Homo sapiens: one gene and its partner. The protein of the gene in region 1 interacts with the protein of each later gene in a pairwise test. Each region holds a gene or a part of one and is shown on either strand. Other genes may lie near its edges. The genes, in order: B3GALT2 and GNPTAB.

Region 1 (3,925 bases):
CTATAATAATCCAGGGAGACATTAAAAAAATCCAATCAAAAGAACTGGCAAAAGAATAATAATTATTTAGTCCTTTCCTGGAGAAAGGGGTAGGGAATGTCTCTAAATCAACTTTGTATCCCCTATACTTAATAAGCTATGCCTAAATGCACATGTTGGTACACAGTAGTTAATCAATATGTACCTGTTGAAAAAGTGAAAATATAAACATTCATTTATTATTCTATTAATGATTCCTGGGTATGCTGCGCCAGTGTTCAGAAAAAAAAAAAATCCCACAATTTCTCTAGCAGTGCCATGTAATAAAAAGTTTAAGAACAGAGAATAATGATAGTACTAGATAGATTTAAAAAGAAAACAAAAACACAGAGGATAAGAATTTAGATAATCTTGCTTCAATTCCCAGCTTGGCCTCTATTCTTATCAGTATTTATCTGACATTTGGACTATTTTACAACTCCAGGCACTGGTTCTGCATCTTTTAAGTGGGTATTACAATAATAAAATTATTAGAAAAGAGCCATTTGCATAACAGCTCAAGTAAGCTTAGCACGCAATCTGATTTTCAGTAAATACTCCATAAATGGTCATTGTGGCTAGCTTCATAGTCAAATCCTATGTAAAGAATCACTGATAAATAAATACTGATCTACAAAAACACATCTGTACTTCTGGAAAATAAGTTATTTTAAGTAAGTTCTTAAGCATTACTCTGTTAACTAGTAAACTAATTTTAAAAACAAAACGGTAGTGAGTGAGAATTGCAGTATGGGTGGATATAGACTACAAGGAAGTTGGGTTTTAGTCCTCTCCTTCAAACTTAACTAGGAAAAGTCAAAGCTCAGTCTAGGCTTTAGGTTTCCTATTTATAAAATTCTTTTTTTTCTTTAACGATCCTTCTAACATTTCTAATACAGTGGGGTTCTTAAAACTACAAAGCACATTTCATCAGCAAAGCTCAAAAATATGTGGACAAAATTTTTTTTAATATCAGAGAAAACAAATTCATATTCATTTGAAATAGCATATATTAATGGTGGAGGCAGTGAGATGAAGAATATGTATATAACTGTTAACCTTTAGCTTAAGCTCCAAAACTATAACTTTCTAGGACTGAATTACTGTCCCTAGAGTCACAGAGGAAAAACTGATAATAAAGGCTTTTTACTACAACAAAAAATTTAAAAAAACCTTCCCTACTGCTCTGCAGTAAGAAAAGAAGGTGCCAGCCCCAGAAACTAACCATATTAGAAAAATCTCAGTGAGTGTGTAGTGTTAATAAAATCTGCCTCATGGCAAGTTATTAAATCTTTCTGAAACATTAGAATAAGTAAACATAATTAGTAAAATCTCATTACCCCCAGATCCTGTACAAGTGTGCTATATCTATTACATCATTTTACTGAATTCTACGATACATGTAATTTTAAAGGGAAGGAAAAATAAATAAAAAATAAATGACAACATTAAAAAGTGATTTAAAATAAAGTTTTCTGCCATCAAGAACACCAAAAACCACATAAGAGCAAAAAAGAAGTGGGCTGTATCACATCATGCATTAGTAAAGTAATCCAAGACAGCTTATTTATACAAACCCCAGAAAACGGGGGGGGGGATCTAAATTACAAAGATACATGGTTTCAATAGAAACCATAGGTCTTAACTACATATTAGTAAAAAATCAAGAGCAATTTGAAAGCAGAGAAAAAAAACTTCAAGAAGAGAATGCACTGAAGGGGTTAAATTACACCAACTTACACACAAAAGCTTATACTGCTTACACCCTACAAAAGCATGTAAGAAACATGAAAACCAACATCTAACACAGAAAACACTTAGAAAGCCTGTACTTAAGAATAAAGTTAAAAAAGGAAGTAAGCTGGAAAAAATAAAATCATAACCATTTCATAATCATCACATTTTCAAATTATTCACTCATCACTACACTTGCATTCAACATATATAATTTATCACATAAAAGCAAAATCTCTAAGCTTCTCCCTACCTTAGGTTTTTAGTCAAAATGAATGCAAACAATCACGTGGGATTCAGCCAAGCAGTGACGTTAAATTCTGCTCTGTCAGAGAGAGCATCTGTCAAGCCCACATTTAAACTGCTGCCTGCCTGTGCAGCAGCTGAGGAACCGTGGATTTCATATTATAGACTAAAACCCCATTAAAACTGCTCAAAATCCTTCCTGCAGCTGCCAGGCAACAACGAAAGAAGAGAGGTAAATCCTATTCTTTTCCAATACAACTGAAGCACTACATTTTAGCTCTGGCTGCTTTACATTGCAGCTCAGTGTTATTAGTAGAAATATGGATACTGAGACGAGAACACAGCACTGCATTGTCCAGCCAGGAAAATAGCAGATGTAAAAAGCTTCAATGCATCAACTGTCGGGAAGAGTCAACAGTGCTACAAGCAGAACGGGCAACTACAGCTCTTTTGTTTAACGAAAGAGAGAAAATGAAAGAAAGGGAAAATTTCAGAAGACTAGGACCCATATGAACAAGGAGGGTAACTCGAAGACAAGCAGACAGATGGACACTTTGGATACTGTGAAAAGCAATCGCAGGAGGCAGACTGTTGGGGGATGTGCGCATGTTCGATAGCATCTTTTTTGCTGAAGTGATGGCGTGCCAAAAGTATTTTCAGTGGGCATAATCCTCTTCACATAAATGGCCTGACCAAGGAAGGTATGTCAATATCTTGTGTATGATAGTCATTTAAATGTGTTACCTTTTTATAGCCCTGGAGGCACTAATACCTGATAAGCAAGTTCATACAGCTCACTGCCCTTGAAACTATGAAAAGGTTTCTTAATATCTGATTTTAAAATTTGTCATTGTTTAGAAGACAAGCTGTCACTGCTTTATGCAGCTAAATATGTAGCTTGGAGTAATTCTGGGTAATAGACATCAGAGGGAAAAGGCAAATAAGAAGAAGATGTGTTTAAAGGATTCCTTAAGAAATTAAACTTAAAAAAAAATCTGTAGCCCTTTACAAAAAACACAGCAATATTCTATCAAATTAGGTCAAACTGAATCCTTATCTAGTAAATTAAATGCTCTCTTAAAAATGGCTATCAAAAGACACAATGCAGTGAAATTTCATTAAATAGTAGCAAGGAAAACCTTAAGAGTTTTTTTTTCAAAGTCCTTTTAAAACAAAACCTTAATATGTAACAGCTTTTAGTAACAAAATCTTCCCCAACATCTCCCTAAATGAAGATAATGAACACAACCAAAGAGAGTATCAACAAATTTTAAATATTACCAAGCTACAAGAAGATACTAAAAGGAAAGCATTAACATAAGATCACATAAGGTAGTGTGAGTTTATGCATAACCCCACAATAGAGCCTCGTGTTATTATAGTGACCATGAATAGAACTTTAAACAAAGGGACATCAATAGTGGCTTTAAAAATTAACTATTTTAAATAGCTTACATTTTATGTAAAAGACTGATTCCAAATGATCAAATTTAACGTTGTCTCTGATTATCATTTCAGAAGTGAAATTCAAAAACATAATATGGAAATACTTTGATACAAAAATATCCACAAATGGCAATACAAGGTCAAAAAATTAAATATAAATGTAGCTACTATGCTTCCAGGCTATATTAATATGCAGTAATGAACTACCGCCACTATATGTGTGTGCAGGGCACAGATAAACCAAATAAACTATTTTAGCAACAATCATAGAACAGCAACTCAGGGCTCAAGAACTTAAAGATATTTCTAAAATTCTACAAATCTATCAAAGATCCTGATTTTTCCTCAATTTCACAACACAACTCAGTAATTATCTAATAATCACAAAAGGCAAACATTTTTTAAAAATATGTAAGTACTGCATTCCAAAATGAAGATTAAACAAGTTTACCAGACTCTATTACACCTCAACATCACTCTC
Region 2 (3,925 bases), on another chromosome or scaffold:
TTGATGAGGATTAAATAAGATGGGTATGTAAAGCACCTCACACAGTTCCTACTACATAACAGACCCTCATTAAATGGTCATGGCTACTGCTGCTATTATATTATCAACTCTTTTATGTCCTTAAACCTTATTTTGAAATATATCCTTGAATCAGAATACTTTGATCATATAGTTAATATTACCAACTTGTTAATAATCTCACTAATTGTAATGGATTGTAAGCTCACTAATTGTAAGTCCTTTTGGACTAAGAAGATCATTGTTTTTTTTGTTTTGTTTTGAGATAGAGTCTCACTCTTGCCCACGCTGGAGTGCAGTGGGGTGATCTCAGCTCACTGCAACCTCCACCTTCCAGGTTCAAGTAATTTTCCCTGCCCCACCCTCCGGAGTAGCTGGGATTATAGGCACCCGCCATCACGCTAGACTAAGTTTTTGTATTTTTAGTAGAGACAGGGTTTCACCATGTTGGCCAGGCTGGTCTCAAACTCTGGACCTTAGGTGATCCGCCTGCCTTGGCCTCCCAAAATGCTGGGATTATAGGTGCGAGCCACTGTGCCTGGCCCTCAGAAGATCATTGTTAACTGTAAATTTGTTATCGTCTCCTCCTCTCAATATAACAGGTATTTGATGCTGTATTTTGATAAGCCTTTTCTATATTCATCCAAACTTCGAGAAGTAGAATTGAGGGAAGGAAGTATCAAACAAAACAAGCTGGGTGAGGTGGCTCATGCCTGTAATCCCAGGACTTTGGGAGACTAAGGCTGGAGGATTGCTTGAAGTCAGGAGTTGGACAAGCCTGGGAAACAAAGGAGACCCTGTCTCTACAAAAAAAAATAAAAATAAAGGCTGGGCGTGGTGGCTCACACCTGTAATCCCAGCACTTTGGCAGGCCGAGGCAGGAGAATTGCTTGAGCTCAGGAGTTTGAGACCAGCCTGGGCAACATGGCGAAACCCTATCTCTGCAAAAAAAGTAGAGTAGTCCCAGTTGCTTGGGAGACTGGGGTGGGAGGATCACTTGAGCCCTGGTGGTTGAGGCTGCATGAGCCGTGATTGCACCACTGCACTTAAGCCTGGGTGACAGAGTGAAACCTTGTCTCAAAAATAAATACATAAATAAAAAAAGTTAGCTAGGTGTGGTGGCACATGCCTGTAGTCCCAGCTGCTCAGGAGGCAGGAGGCTGTGGCAGGAGTGTTGCTTGAGCCCAGGAGTTTGAGGTGCAGTGCCTGTGATTGTGCCATGCACTCCAGCCTGGTAGACCTGGTCTCAAAAAAAAAAAAAAAAAAAAAAAAAAAACAACTCCCACAGGGAGAGCCTTCAGAATGGGGACTAGTGGTCACAAAAATGCATTGCCTTGGACTGTAGGTAGCAGGTAATCAGTCTATTGTAAATTAGTTAGCTCCACAAATGGTGTTACTAGATTGACTGCTCTTAAGATCCTTTTTAGCTTAGAAACTTCTGGTTTTTAAATAATTTGTTCTCTGTTAGTTGCTACTGTATAGATTTTAAAACGTGTTTTTGAGTTAAAATTTATTATTTCAGGGCCATCATTATTTAATCGAACCATTTATATACAAGTCCACAATTCTTCACACTCAGGAAAATACAGACTATACCTAGCCTCAAGTCAGTTTAGTCATTTTGCCACCAAATAAGTACAGGGCAGGTCAAGTTTAGTTGCCAAATAAGGTACAAAAAGATCTCTAGGTAGGGCTGGTCTGTTTTGAAAAAAAAAAAAAATTAAAAATCAGAAAAATAAAATTAAAAAAATTAAAAATTAGAAACAAAAAGTTGAAAGCCCCTCCAGTATTCAGAGCATTTTGGATTTCAGGATTACTAATAGAGGGTTGTAGATCAGTGTGTATATGTGTATGTGTATCTGTGTGTGGGGGTATGGTGTATGTATAACGTATCACTTCCTTTGTGCACTAAGTATGGAAACAAATATCCAAGAATTAACTTGCATAAGGAAGCAAAATAGGTTCACATAGAATCTACTCGTAATGAATGGTAATTTTTCCGTGACCTCTCTGCTCCCTTTTGCTTTCCTGCTTTTCTGTTGCCATTTTGAATCAATGAGTTATTTTCTGTGAAAAGGAGAATTGAAAACTGGGTCTAGCTCAAGTTATGTTCAGCCTCAGTGGTGACCAGTGTCTTATACTGGCCTTATTTCAAGAAATTAGTTATCATTTTTGTATTTGATTAGTTCACTCATTAAACAGATATATTTGAGTGTGTTCTTGGCCAAAGGCAACAAACAGATGAGTTAGAAAGAGGCCTGGCCTGAGAGTGGGGACCGTCTGGCCTGCTCCTAGGTGCAGCACAAATTGTGATCCTCAGTGGTTCCCAAACTGAGTTACTCCCAGCTGCCTTGTGGGTTGGGAGTAGCCCCTCTTATCTATTTCGTGTGGACTTGTTTTCTGGGAAAGGTTTCATTGTTTAAAAAATGTTTACAAACTATGAGACTATATTTCTAAGAGCCTCATTTTAGCTTTAATGTTTTGTGAATATACATTTATTGGATACTTCACATGAGAAGCATGACTTGTAATGGATTTTATACTAGAGATGCCAATGGCCACACAGAGCCTTTTTAAAGGGTCTCTTTGTTTTGGGGGGTTTGTGAGAGGTACATAGTCCAGCTAACTATCAAAGTAGGGACCTTGTCTTATTCTCTGCTGTATTCTTAGCCACTAGAAAGTGATTGGTACCCAGTAGATGCTGAATAAATACTTGATGGATGCATGAATGAATGGATTGATTAATTGGGTTGATCTTAACTGACATCCTTTCAAATTTATTTCAAGTAAAGGTAAATTTTTTGCTCTGATGTAGCGTTTATAGTTCCCTTTTATTTCTCAAATGTGATTGATCTGATATAACTTGAACATTTTCATGCTCTGAGAGTCATTCCTGCTCTGGTAACTTTCTCTAAAAATCTGAGACCTGTTGTTAGACTGTACAGTGGAAGATGCTGTCGTCAGAATATACAGTGGAAAATGCTGTCAGAGATACAAATAATTATAGCTCATGCCTTTGGCTATTGTTTAGTTGAGATGAGGCCAAGATGTATGTATGAGGACTGAATAACAACACAGGGGAATAAGCAATTGAATGCCTGAGTTAGTACACAACAATTGCTTAGAAAGTCAGAAGACAGAAGAATGTTGTGGGTTGAAACATCCTCGAGGCAGTTCTGACACCTTTTCAAGGAGGCATGAGCTTTAGGGAGGCTTCATGGACAAGTAGGAGTTTAAACAGAAGAGAGACAAGGAAAGATTATTTTAGGAAGTGGTGGGAGTAATTTTAGCATAAAGTTGGTAATGTCAGAGAAGTTTGTGATCGCTTTTTCTTTTTGAATTACTAGTGGTTTAACATTGCAGCTAGAATTAGTTAACAGCACTAGGTTGCAAGTGACAGACTCCCAACTCAGACCTAGCTTATTAACTAGTTTATTATTAACCAGTTTGTTAACTGGGATAATTGAAAAATATAGGATGAGGCCAGGTGTGGTGGCTCATGTGTGTAATCCCAGCACTTTGGGAGGCCAAGGCGAGTTCGAAAGCAGCCTGGCCAACATGGTGAAACCCTGTCTCTACAAAAAATACAAAAATTAACTGGGCGTGGTGGTGCATGCCTGTAGTCCCAGCTACTTGGTAGGCTGAGGCAGGAGAATCGCTTGAACCCTGGAGGCAGATGTTGCAGTGAGCCAAGATTGTGCCACTGCACTCCAGCTTGGGCGACAGAGTGAGGCTCTGTCTCAAACAAAACAAAACAAAAAGGTTAACCAAAAAAAAAAAAAAAAAAAAGAAAATATATATATATATATATATATATATATGGTGAAATTTCTGGCAGGAGTGGATCGAGGTGCTCAAATGATGTCATCAGGAATCTCTTTTTGTCCCTGTTTCTCACCTCTGCCTT

The links.
Region 2: the proteins of B3GALT2 (region 1) and GNPTAB interact in binary tests that used the Homo sapiens proteins (3 or more experiments, as listed by UniProt).

The regions. Positions count from the first base shown.
Region 1 is NC_000001.11:193,184,793-193,188,717, reverse strand, and holds the start of B3GALT2 (beta-1,3-galactosyltransferase 2), read left to right. Parts: upstream 1-2,104; 5' UTR 2,105-2,699; intron 2,700-3,925. UniProt on the Homo sapiens protein: Beta-1,3-galactosyltransferase that transfers galactose from UDP-galactose to substrates with a terminal beta-N-acetylglucosamine (beta-GlcNAc) residue. Can also utilize substrates with a terminal galactose residue, albeit with lower efficiency.
Region 2 is NC_000012.12:101,824,320-101,828,244, reverse strand, and holds part of GNPTAB (N-acetylglucosamine-1-phosphotransferase subunits alpha/beta precursor), read left to right. Parts: intron 1-3,925. UniProt on the Homo sapiens protein: Catalyzes the formation of mannose 6-phosphate (M6P) markers on high mannose type oligosaccharides in the Golgi apparatus.